Homo sapiens: one gene and its partner. The protein of the gene in region 1 interacts with the protein of each later gene in a pairwise test. Each region holds a gene or a part of one and is shown on either strand. Other genes may lie near its edges.

The links. The genes of interacting proteins can lie anywhere in the genome.
Region 2: the proteins of CAV3 (region 1) and KCNJ12 come close enough for resonance energy transfer, tested with the Homo sapiens proteins (one study listed by BioGRID).

Annotation. Positions count from the first base shown.
Region 1 is NC_000003.12:8,736,779-8,743,807, forward strand, and holds part of CAV3 (caveolin-3), read left to right. Parts: intron 1-4,490; exon of another isoform or gene 4,491-5,824; intron 5,825-7,029. UniProt on the Homo sapiens protein: May act as a scaffolding protein within caveolar membranes. Interacts directly with G-protein alpha subunits and can functionally regulate their activity. May also regulate voltage-gated potassium channels.
Region 2 is NC_000017.11:21,414,354-21,420,396, forward strand, and holds the end of KCNJ12 (ATP-sensitive inward rectifier potassium channel 12), read left to right. Parts: intron 1-933; 5' UTR 934-989; coding exon 990-2,291; 3' UTR 2,292-5,517; downstream 5,518-6,043. UniProt on the Homo sapiens protein: Inward rectifying potassium channel that probably participates in controlling the resting membrane potential in electrically excitable cells. Probably participates in establishing action potential waveform and excitability of neuronal and muscle tissues.

The DNA.
Region 1 (7,029 bases):
CGCAAATAATTTTGTCCAGAGGAGGTGGTTATTTGGTATGTTTTGGACATTCTCTGCTTTAGGGATTTGTTTGACTTTTTCTTTCTTTTATTTTTAGTGAGTGAGAAATGAAAAAAGTTAATGCAGAACAAGGATCATAAAGCAGACTCAGATATAGATCACAAACAGGTTTAGGTAGATTTCAGGTCTCTGTTACAGTCTGTTAAAGAATAAAGAAAAGAAAGAAGGAGAGAGGGGACTGTGGCTAGGAGGGATGAAGCCAGACTGTTCAGCCTCTCAACTGCCCGGGTTTTGCCATCGATGGAGGAAAAGAGAGATGGGAAGGAAAAGGGAATGAGGGAGACAGAGAGAGATGGAGAAACTGGACAGAGACTGAGAGGAAGGTGCAGGAGGCCCTGGCAGTGCCCCAGGTGGCAGGTGGCAGGGTGGCCTCACAGGTGGTAGCAGGTTTCTCATGGGCTAGGATGAGTGACACGGAAAGAATGCTGGAATAGGACCTGGCTACAGACTCAAGTTCTGGTCCAAGACCTGACAGTAACTTGCTGTGTGACTCTGAGGAAATCCTTTGCCCTCTCTGGTCCCAAGTCCCTGGTGCCACCAGTCACGGCCGTTTCACATTTAAAAAAGCCAAGGATGAAGAGTAGGAGATAGGCATACTACATCCATGGATTTGACCCCCAGTAGAGGGGAGGCACCCCTTTTTGGCCCTGCCTTTAAACCCAGGCAGCCAAGAACAGAGGAAGAGCCCTGTATACTCCAACAGACTTCAGCTGTGGTCTCCAAGGCTCGGGACTGGGCCCAGGGCAGTGTAGAAGGTCATGGAGATTGTAGCTGAGGAACTGGGGGGAGCACACCCCCATTTCTGTTGCCACTTGCCCTCCTCACCAACACTGATTCCACAAATCGCAACTGAATGCCTGTTCAGCACAGGCAATGTGCTGTCCCAGAGGACGTAGTGATGAGCAGGACAGCCTCACTGCATGCAAACCCTCCAGGCTGCAGGGGTGGGAATGTCTGCCAAAGGTCCCCAGGGCTCTCAGCTCACCAGCAGGTACACCCAAGGTTGCCTCAACCTTCAGACCCAGGTTGGAAAGGTCCTAGCCCCACTACAGGTATACCTCAGCACCTCAGAGCCACCCCACAGTGCCTCCAAGTTATTTCCAAGAGGGCTTAGGGCCACCTCACTGACAGCATGCTCTCTCTCTCTGCTCTCTCTTCTCTCTCTCTCCTCTTTCTTCTCTCTCTCTCTCTCCTCTGTCTTCTCTCTCTCTCTCTCTCCTCTCTCTCTCTTCTCTCTCTATCTCCCTTTCTTGACTCACACATAGGCCCCCAGGGCCCTAAAGCAGTGATGCTTGAACCTGAGAGTTATGCAGGTATCCCAGCTTCTGCAGTCAACTCCTCCCTCTTGAGCTTCTCCCAAGTTGCCCTTCAAGCAGGGGAAGGAGATAGATAGGATCCCAGCCTCTCCATGATACTACTCCCCAACCCCCTCCACCCACATCTGCCACAGAACGCCTGCCTTCTTCAGAAAAACAAACACCCATTTGCCCCCCGGCTCAGGCTACACAACACCCAGAGGAACCAGATGCCCACCAGCCCTACAAACACTTGTTCCAGGTTTGTGCTCATCAGGGACACCCTGTTGCACAAAGAAGAAACTGACCTGGTACCTCCCTTGGCGGGGAATCCATTCCTGGGGAGAAGATGAGAGGAGAACAATGAGAACATACAGGAGAAGGAGCTGAACACCGTAAATGAGTGCCAGGTTAGGTGTCATGGGAGGTTAGGAGAGGAAGAATTACTTTCATCTGGAAAAATCAGAAGCCAGCTATATGGACAGGTGGTATCCATGGTGCATCATAAAAATGAGAAAAATTAAAAATGTGAAATGGAGGAACAAAGCTTTCCAAGAAGAAATGGAATAAGCAAAGGCTTTCCCAACACTGGGAAGAATGTTGGGCAGAGTTGGCAAACGTAAGAGGCTGTCATTACCACTGCCCCTTCCAGTGTTCATGGCAGACATGACAATGGATCACAGCACTGCTCCATGACTAATGGATCACAGCACTGCTCCATGGAAGCCATGCACCATCAGCTAGTCATAGTGGGTACAACAGATAACACTTCGCTGCTCTGTCTGCAGAAGAATAATGAACTATCGAAGAGGATTAGGACAGAGGATCTGAAAGGGAATTTGTGGGAGAGAAGGCAGGAAGGGCAGGTTGAAACTAAATAATAGAGGGTCATCCAATCCACCTGTCATTCCATATTGGCAATTCCTTCCTTTTGGAAATGTCTTGCCCTCTGTCAATGACCTCTAAGAAGAGCTGCATCAGACTAATTCACACTGAGGTATTACAACTTAGTGTTATGAGGACTCCTGGGTATCAACTGATCTAGAGTTTTTCAAAATGCAGTCCACTTTCCCAGGGTCCAGTGGTGGGGGCACTTACTAAACTGCAGATTCCTTGGCCTTGCCCCCAGAAGTTCTTATTCAGCTGAGCTGGTGAATGTTTACACTTTAATGTTTGAGCATAAAAGTTTCATGCTCAGGCCAGGCACGGTGGCTCACACCTGTAATCCCAGCATTTTAGGAGGCCAAGGCAGGTGGATCACCTGAGGTCAGGAGTTCAAAACCTGACCAGGCCAACATGATGAAAACCTGTCTCTACTAAAAATACAAAAAAAAAAAAGAGCCAGGTGTAGTGGTGGGTGCCTGTAATCCCAGCTACTCAGGAGGCTGAGGCAGGAGAATTGCTTGAACCCAGGAGGCAGAGGTTGCCATGAGCCGAGATCGCACCACTGTATTCCAGCCTGGATAACAAGAGCAAAATTCCTTCTCCAAAAAAAAAAAAAAAGAGTTTCACGCTCAAACTTGTCAGCTTGTCAGCAACCAAGTCCCATTCATCCTATAGAAGACACCTGGAGCCCAGAGTTATCCCTTGTTTTCCCTAAAGACAGACTGTATCAGTTATCAATTGTGAGTAACAAATCATTCCAAAACTTAATGGCTTAAGGAAACAACCATTTTTTTATTTCTCACAGTTCTGTGGGTGGGCAGGGCTCAGCTTGGCAGTCCTGCTGGTCCCACTGGGGGCCTCTCATGCAGCTACAGTCAGATGGTGGCTGAGGCTGCAATCACCTGGGGGCTCCACCGAGCTAGAACATCCAAGATGGTTCACTCATAGCCCTGGAGGACTGGCAGAGATGGCTGGGAGGCACAGCTGAGCTGTGGTGCTGGGGTGGCTGGCCCTCTATCTCCATGTAGTTTCAGGCCTCCTTATTCACATGGCCTCTCCATTAGTCTCTCGAGCAGCATTCAGCAGTGCATTTCTAATTCTGCTAGTCTCCAGAGCAGAGTATAAAAGTGGACTTCTAACATGGGGGCTCAGTGCTCCTAAAAGCAGAAGGTGCTAGGCTTTCTGAAGGCTTAGTTCTAGAACTGGCACAACATCCTTTCTGCCACATTCTTGTGGTTAAAGTGAGTCACAGGGCAAGCCCAGACTCAAGATGGGATGAGACTACCTGAGGACAAACACCGAGAAGCATGACTAATGGAGGGTCATCTTTGGAGACCAGCAAACCACCCACTGAAAGCTCGTGCACAGCCAAGCCCAGAGCTCCACCCAGGGTACTTCTATTCCTCCCTATTCCAATATGCACCAAATTTCTTGAAGGCAGAGATTGAGAGAGCAGAAGAGCGGATGGGAAGGGACAGGCAGTGAGGCAAAGATCAGGGCTTAGTGGATTGCTGAGGAGCTTCTTCTGGCAGGTTCTTCTCTCTCTGTCTCTCTCCTTGCAGCCCTCTGTTATCTCAGTCTCTTCCCAGCTCCTTTACATAAAACCAAGTCCTGTTATGCCCCAGCCCAGGTGTCCTAGGTCCCTTAAGGTAGACCTGGAGCTGAAAAGAGAGGCTGGAGGGAACTAGGATGGGGGTAGATATATGGTCCTACCTAGGATGCTCTCAACTCCTAGAGCACCCTCCTGAAGGAGGAGTCACAGATGTTCTCAACTCCAAGCTCCAGATGATGCCTGGCCACCTCCTCCACCCATCAGAGCCAGCCTATGCTGTGTTCTGGCCTCAGGCCCTGCTGGGGTATCTGGCCCCTTCAATCACCCTGCTGTCAGGCTGACCTGAGCGTCACTCTGCCAGTCCCTTACGTGCCATGTGAAATAACACATGTAAGATACATGGCCCCAAACTGACATGCATAAAGGGCCATATACATCGTGGGTGTTACCATGGTTATCCCAGATTGTACACAGTTGTATTCTTTTGTTGCTACCTTTTATAACAAAAGATGCAGAGCTTTGTCATTTTTACAGTTTTTGCAGCTATCACCTCATTTTACTTCCTACTTTGTAGGCCAGTGCCTCTAAAACTGAGTGAAGGACCAGTTTTAATATTATTATTCTAATCCACTGCACAGCTATACTTTTGCAAAACGCAACAAAAATTAATCACTGGAAAAATGAAATGAAAACAGCCGTACAGTTACAAGCACCAATGTTTATTGTTAGATTCAATAAACATAAAATTACTGCATCAAATTTCTATGAATATTTCTAAGCACTCTCAACTTCTATAATTACCTTGTTGGGAGACAGGACACACTGATTGTGAACTGCCTTTTAAGTAGCAAGGTAATAGGGGAGGAAGCTGGGATCTGGCAAAAGCTAAGCCTCTCACTTGGGTTTTCTGACTCTGAAGCTAACTCCGTGTCATTACAGATCTTGGCCCAATCGTCTCTGTGTAGAGTTGAAAAAAGAAAACAAACAAACAAAAAACCTAGGATCTCAGAGAGGGAAAGTACCATGCCCCAAATCATACAGTAACTCAATGGCCAGTGGATACTGGGACCATATACCTCCCCACCCTGCTAAGAGCTATTTCCCCACCCACAGATATCCTATTTGAATTGTCCAAGGTCCTGGATGCCTACGGACTGAGTCATGCAGGACTCTGGGGGAGGTATTTTCGACCCCGGGTGACTGTTGTCCTCCCCCGCATCCTCAAGCAATCCCCCGCCCTGCTATCCTACACCTTCCCCGCCCTCTCAGAGACTGCGGGGACTGCGCTGGCTGGTTTCAATTAATCAACTGGGTCTCTTGCTGTTCCAAAAATAAATATGCCACAGAAGGGGACACCGACAGAATGTGCACCATCGTTCCCCCTTCCTCACCCTCCAGCCCCTCTCTCCAACTGCACACAGTGTCCTGAGCCTCAGCACGCAGATGCAGGCTTTCAGCCCACCACCCTCCAAGAAAAAGCCATCTCCTCTCTTCTGGAAAGGAATTAAGAAATGAAGTCACCGTATGCTTGTGCTGCATGGTACAGCTGCCTAGAGCTGCCTGAGCCGGGCCTTATAAATATCTCCCCAAACTAGCATGCTGTGGCCAAAGCTCTCTCAATGCTCAAATCTGAGCTAGGGGAACAGCTGCCTCCTCCAAGCCCAGCCCAGCCCTCTGAGAGCATGTTTTCTGAGATTCACAGAAAATAGAGCACTTGCCCCACACACAGCACCCAAAGGCAATCCCTGGAAATAATTCAAATGTTAGCACCAATGGCTTCTGCAAACACCAAAAAAAAAAAAAAGAAGAAGAAGAAGAAGAAAGATAATTAAAAGACACATACAGAAGCCATTGGCGGTAGGATTATTACTGTAAGTACTGTACTTACTACTGTAAGGAAAGGAGGACTCCATCCGTCTTATCAGCACAGACTGAGACACACGCAGACTCATTTATAACTAAGTAGGCTGGAGAATAATCCGGGATGTCAAAAGAATTTCTCAGATGTATTTTCGAGGAATCTTCAGAGCACCTGAAGGAATAATTACCATCACTGAGCAATATTACCATCACAATAGCCAGGCATTGTGCTAAGCACTGCTCAAGAGGTAGTGTGCCTGGGCAAAGTGGGTAATCAATCAGTATTTATTTGGATGTGTGGGTGGGTGGATGGATGGATGGATGAAAGGATGGATGGATAGATGGATGATAGATGAGCAGGCAGATAGGTGGATAGATGGATAGATGAATGAGTGGATAGATGGTGAGTGTCAGTCTGTTTTTCATTGCTATAAAGGAATACCTGAGACTGGGTAATTTATAAAGAAAAGAGATTTATTTTGGTTCATGGTTCTACAGGCTGTATAAGAAGCATGGTGCAGGCATCTGCAGCTGGTGAGGCCTAAGGAAGCTTCCAATCATAGCAGAAGGCAAAGGGGGAGCTGGCATATCACATGGCGAGAGAGGGAGCAAGAGAGCTGCCGGGTTCTTTTAAACAACCAGGTCTCATGTGAACTAACGAGCAAGAACTCACTCATGACCACAGGGAGGGCACCAAGCCATGGTGAAGGGTCCGCCCCCATGACCCAAACACCTCCCACCAGGCCCCATCTTCAACACTGGGGATCACATTTCAACATGAGATTTGGACGGGACAAACATCCTAACCATCTCAGTGGGTTGTGGATGTATGGATGAATACATGAAAGAAAAATGATCTCAGTCAGCAGGATCCAGGCCCTGGGGGTTTGACTAGAACCTCCATAAACATGGGGAGTGAATATGACTTTTCCATCCCTGTTCCAATCCCGAAGTCCCCTAAATTCCCAGCCAGCCACCACCTCCTGGAAGCCCTCCAAGAAGAAGTAACATCCTTCCTGAGAAGATGAGGCCCATTTTCTTCCTCTCCTCCCATCCACAGGGTTGCATAAGAGATTAAGTCATCTCTGATGAAACCTGCAGCAGAGAAAGCTGGGGGCCAAGATTATACAAGGAAGGTCCTGGGAGGTCAGCTTTTCCATTTCTCCTGCAGCCCAGAGTCTCACCCTGTAAACTGTGCTGCCTGCTGACACACCACCCCGAGTGAGGCCTCATCCTCAGGGATCCCCAGCCTCAGAGCACAGGGGGATCAGGGACCTGAGGTGGGGTGCAGGAGCTCAGAAGCTAAAGTCACATGAGAAAAGAGGGCCCAACACTGTCTGAGCAACATGGTTCTAGTCACTTCTTTCCCCAGAAAAT
Region 2 (6,043 bases), on another chromosome or scaffold:
AATCCCAGCTGCTCAGGAAGCTGAGGCAGGAGAATCGCTTGAACCCAGGAGGCGGAGATGGCAGTGAGCTGAAATCGCACCATTGCATTCCAGCCTAGGTGACGAGAGGAAGATTCTGTCTAAAAAAGAAAAAAAGAAAGAAAAGAAAAAAAGAAAATGTGCTACCCTTAGGGAGTGGTGGTCTCAGGGTGGGGTTGATGGTTGAGTGCCCCTGGCTACGTTATTGTTATTGCTGCCGCCATTGTGCCCTTAGAAGGGGCAGTGCTGTGGATATAGCAGGGATGGGACATGGGTCTTCCTGGGGCACAAGGAGGCCTCTGGTGCCAAGGTGGCGAGGCAGTGGCAGGATGTCTTGCGGGAGGGTGTCCAGGGTGGGTTTGAGGGACAGCCTGGGGCCAGGGGCTGTGGCCGGAAGGGGAGTCCGCTGGAGGAGGCTGGGAGGTGAGGTCCGAGGGGTCAGGAGCTTCCCTGTGCAGGTCCTGCATGTCCTGGGGGGCCTCTGGCATTGAGCAGGGGAGGGATAGGCACCGACTCAGCTTCCACAGGCCCTCTGTGGCTGCCATGGAGACTGGGGGGCCATGGGCAGAGGCAGAGAGGCTGGCAAGTTGTGCCCCGAACTGGCTGGGCAGGCACTGTTAGATTCAGGCCTTGAGGGTGGGAGAAGGGGTCGGATCCTAAATAGACTCTTCAGAGCCCTCAGTGTGGGAGTGAGGTGTGGAGCTGAGGTTTTTGGCTGGAGCTGCTGGGGGCCCGAAGGGGGTGGCCATTCGCACTGGGAAGGCGGAGTGGGGAGCTGGCTTGGGCAAGACCAGAGCACGATCGTGGGTCAATCAGGGTGGAAGCGTCCTCCAGTCACGTCTGGGGGCCCTGGGATGGGGGTAGAGGAGCCCGGAGCCACCAGCCCAGCCAGACATGCTGTCGTCTCTGTTGCAGGAGCCGCCCTGCCTGGAGCTAGCCTGGGGGCGAGCCAGGGTCCCCCAACCCCCGGGATGACCGCGGCCAGCCGGGCCAACCCCTACAGCATCGTGTCATCGGAGGAGGACGGGCTGCACCTGGTCACCATGTCGGGCGCCAACGGCTTCGGCAACGGCAAGGTGCACACGCGGCGCAGGTGCCGCAACCGCTTCGTCAAGAAGAATGGCCAGTGCAACATTGAGTTCGCCAACATGGACGAGAAGTCACAGCGCTACCTGGCTGACATGTTCACCACCTGTGTGGACATCCGCTGGCGGTACATGCTGCTCATCTTCTCGCTGGCCTTCCTTGCCTCCTGGCTGCTGTTCGGCATCATCTTCTGGGTCATCGCGGTGGCACACGGTGACCTGGAGCCGGCTGAGGGCCGGGGCCGCACACCCTGTGTGATGCAGGTGCACGGCTTCATGGCGGCCTTCCTCTTCTCCATCGAGACGCAGACCACCATCGGCTACGGGCTGCGCTGTGTGACGGAGGAGTGCCCGGTGGCCGTCTTCATGGTGGTGGCCCAGTCCATCGTGGGCTGCATCATCGACTCCTTCATGATTGGTGCCATCATGGCCAAGATGGCAAGGCCCAAGAAGCGGGCACAGACGCTGCTGTTCAGCCACAACGCCGTGGTGGCCCTGCGTGACGGCAAGCTCTGCCTCATGTGGCGTGTGGGTAACCTGCGCAAGAGCCACATTGTGGAGGCCCATGTGCGCGCGCAGCTCATCAAGCCGCGGGTCACCGAGGAGGGCGAGTACATCCCGCTGGACCAGATCGACATCGATGTGGGCTTCGACAAGGGCCTGGACCGCATCTTTCTGGTGTCGCCCATCACCATCTTGCATGAGATTGACGAGGCCAGCCCGCTCTTCGGCATCAGCCGGCAGGACCTGGAGACGGACGACTTTGAGATCGTGGTCATCCTGGAAGGCATGGTGGAGGCCACAGCCATGACCACCCAGGCCCGCAGCTCCTACCTGGCCAATGAGATCCTGTGGGGTCACCGCTTTGAGCCCGTGCTCTTCGAGGAGAAGAACCAGTACAAGATTGACTACTCGCACTTCCACAAGACCTATGAGGTGCCCTCTACGCCCCGCTGCAGTGCGAAGGATCTGGTAGAGAACAAGTTCCTGCTGCCCAGCGCCAACTCCTTCTGCTACGAGAACGAGCTGGCCTTCCTGAGCCGTGACGAGGAGGATGAGGCGGACGGAGACCAGGACGGCCGAAGCCGGGACGGCCTCAGCCCCCAGGCCAGGCATGACTTTGACAGACTCCAGGCTGGCGGCGGGGTCCTGGAGCAGCGGCCCTACAGACGGGAGTCAGAGATCTGAGCCAACCTTGGCCGACATGCAGCATCCACCCCCGGCTGGGGAGAGGCCCCGCGGTCGCTCAGGGGCCCCGGGTTTGAGCAGAACGGGCCCAGTGCCCTGGGTTGCAGACTCAGTAGCGTTTTAGTCGTTTTATGTTTCTTTGCAACGGCCTCAGAAGTTTGGCCGGAGAGGGGGCAGCCAGAGCGGCAGCCCCCGGCCTCAGAGGCTATCACAGGCTCAGGGCAAAGAAGTGGCCTCCTGGGGGGCCAGGCCACGAGGGCCAGGGCTTCTGCCTGAAGATGGAGCTGCAGCCTGCGGGGAAGCAGCTCAGCTCGATGGTGGGCCCAGCCTCTGCTGTCCAAGGCTGGCTAGCTGCGGTGCTCCTTGCTGGTTTTTAACTTGGGGAGAAACACCGGGTTTCAGCTTTCTTGACCTTAGCTTGGGTGAGACTGTTTACAAAAAAAAAAAATTACCATGCAATTGAAAAAATTTTTTTTTAATTCACAGGGGGCAAAAAGAACAATTAGAATTCCATGGGTCTGCCAGGATGCAGCAGCTGGCTGAAGGCTCCAGAGGGTTCCCCGAGGTGGGACTGGCCTCTCCCCGTGTGTGTGGGCACCACAGTCCCTGGGCAAGCAGGGTGCTCTGGGACCGCACTTCATCGAGCTCACGAGCCAGCTAGGCTCTGTTTGTGATAGAAAAATCAAGACCATGTTAATGATCGTAATAAAAGCTTTCTACTGTCGTTGGGGTGGTGGGTGGGGCTGGGAAGAAACTGGTTTGAGCTTTTAGAGTTTGCCTTTGTACCTTAGAGATGTGTCTCAGGGCCAGGCATGGGACCTGCCATCGAGGGTTCCTCCCCGCACCCTCGATTTTCCTGTTTTGCTTCTCTCTCCATTTCTGTCCAGGCCTCCGCCCAATTCCACAGTGAGGGGTGGTTAGGAGCTATAGGCCGGGATGGCTCCTTGGGAAGGGAAGTCGGGATCCCAGGCTAGGAGGAAGCTGGCAGCCCCGTCCCCACTGGGCCCACAGTGTGAGTCGTGCCTTAGAGACTCCGGGTTGTCCTGTTCTTTCTGGGCTTGCTCATCTCCCCCCAACCCTGTCCCACCCCACCCCTCCCATACCTCCACTGCTGAAGTTCCTCCAGCCCCTCTGTCTGCCTTGTGAAGGTGGCAGGGGCCAGGTCTGCCTGACATAGGACCACATCCTGTCCCTCCCTCACCTGGAGCAGCACAGCAGAGTTCAGGCAGGGCACAGCCAGGCCCTGGTCAGCGCTGAATGGCAGAGGAAAGATCTTAGGAAAGGAGAGGAATCGCCACCCCCTCCTGCCAACTGGGATGACTGGGGAGGGCCACGCTCATTCAAAGCTGAATCAGAAACCAGCCGTGGAACAGAATTCCTGCCGAGTCTTCCAGGGCCGCTCCTCCACCACCCTCCCCCAGGTTGAGGCACTATGGCACCCTCATCAGGAAGAGGTTTGGGGTCCCCTTGTTGTCACTGCTGGCTCTGCCACCCCATCTTGTTCATGGCAGCTGGTTGGGTCAGGTCCATGGTAGAGCCAGGCCCTTCCCAGGGCTGCGGAGAAAACCTGCTCTCTTCTAGTCGGGCTTCTCCAGAAGCCAGTAATCAGAAAGGATGTGTCTCCTGCTCCAACTCTGCCCCCGAGACAGCTCAGAGCCAGAAGGCACCCCGAGACAGCTCAGAGCCAGAAGGCACCCCGAGACAGCTCAGAGCCAGAAGGCACCGAGGACTCTGGCCCAAGTGGGGAAGCTGAGGCAGAGAGCAGAGGGGGTCATGCAGTGAGTGGGTGGGGTGCAGGAGACAGAGAGGGGCTGGGGGCGTGGGGTGGGGGTGTCTGCCTCTTCCCTCCACCTCCTCCCCTCCTTAGCAGCTGAAGACTCAGCCCTGAGGTCTGGGGCAATGGAAGTCAAGACACCCGACCCCTACATCCTGGGGTAGGCCCGACTCAGCATCCTGTCCCAGCTTCAGCCCCACACTCATTTCTGGCATAGAAGATTCCGCCGAGGCAGCTCTTTCCTCTCGGGGTCTGCCAGGGGTGCCTCAGCTGGTTCCTGCTCCCAGGCCTAGCCCCGAAGCCTTAGGGGCCTTCTCAGCCTTAGCCCTGGGTACTGGGGTGAAGTTGGCAGGGGAGAGCTTGACACTTCGCCTCCCTGATGGCCATGCTGAGGGACAGTGGTGACCCTGGTCACTTGGTGCTGGTGTAGGGGCCTGTGCCCTTCCAGGGCCAGTGAGACAGCCTTCTACTCCCCCGACCCAGAGCTGAGTCCGAGGACCCCAGGCCCACCTCCTGGCCCTCTTGGAGGTCTGTGCTCTTACCTCCCAGCCCCCACCCTGCGGGAGAGCAGCCCCAGCGCCTCATCTCCCCAAAGGCGGCAGATGCTTGATTCTCCTGCCCTCTTTCTTCCTTCCCTCGTATTTATTTATTTATTTATTGCTTGTGCTAAAGACCAAAATAGTCTCCCTCTTTAGTGCACTTGAAGCGGGAGGGCGGATGGGATGAGCCAGGAGCGAGGAAGACTTGGCCCCTGGGGAGTGTGTGTGTGGAGGCGTGTGCCTGTGTGAGCCTGCATGCATACATGTGTGGTGCACACATGCACACTCGGCTCTTCATGTGTATGACTGGGTTAGTAATACAGATACGTGATCTATACGTGTGTGTGTGTGTGTGTGTGTGTGTGTGTGTGTATGCAGGCGGTTATGTGTCTGTCTACCCCCAGGTGTTTCCGTGTACAAGTTTCCTGTGAGGGAGGGCACCCACCCATCAGGTTGGGCACTGGCACAGGTGAACCCCACAGTCCCCGACCCTCTGCCCTGATTATGCACGTCTGCTCCTGAGTGGAGCTTGTGTTCCAGGATGAGACATCTGGAGGTGAGCGTGTGCGTCCGGCTCGTGTGTAGGAGGCTGTGTGTGTGCCCATGTGAAACCGTGTACTTGAGTGTGTGTCTGTGTGCAGCCTATGCCTGCTGCTCAGAGCACGGTGGCCACCCCCTGAGCCTCTGCTGGTGCTGTGCTGCGTGGTCCCCACCCAGAGGGTCCTGGGGGGCGGGGAGGAGCCACCGTTGGGAGGCCCCTGTACGGGGTGTCTGCCCTGCGTGAGGGCATAGAATGTCAAATTATTTTAAATGGTGAAACTGGAGAGTTTTCATGTTATTTTCAATACATAGCAGTATCTAAAGACGTAGGCGATGAGACTAGACCACATTAAATGCATTTTGATCTCTTTGAGGTCCCCTGTGTTGAGATGTGTTTTCTGAAGTTCCCCTGCATGGCTCCACAGCGTGCTGGGCGTCCGCCCGGCTTCCTCAGCCTCCGCCTTGGGTGGGGGTTTCCTGGGGCTTCCTCATGGGTGAGGGTGGGGCATGGTGGCAGCTGTTGGGAGATGGAACAGAACTCAGCCTCCTTGCAGCTCCCAGTGGTCTCCAGCAAGCACACAGGGCTTGTCCCATGATGTCACCCATCCCAGGCGGCAGGGCCGAGCCTCCTGCCTTCCCTTCCTTCTGCAAGGATGTGCTGGGTGCCTGCTGTTGCAGCAGCGCCCTCCCCAGCTGGGGGAGGCTGACCTGAGACAGGCAACTCCTTTCCCAGGAGGGGAAGCCCTGCTCCAGCTTGTAGCAGGCAGGGGCTGAGGAGGAGTTTCAGAGCGTGCCAATGTCTCCACTGAGGTGACGAGACAAGCCTGGAGTGGGGTGAGGGAACACACACGGCCCAGTTTTGGGAAACTAGACTTTCATCTGTACCTTGAGGCTCAGCC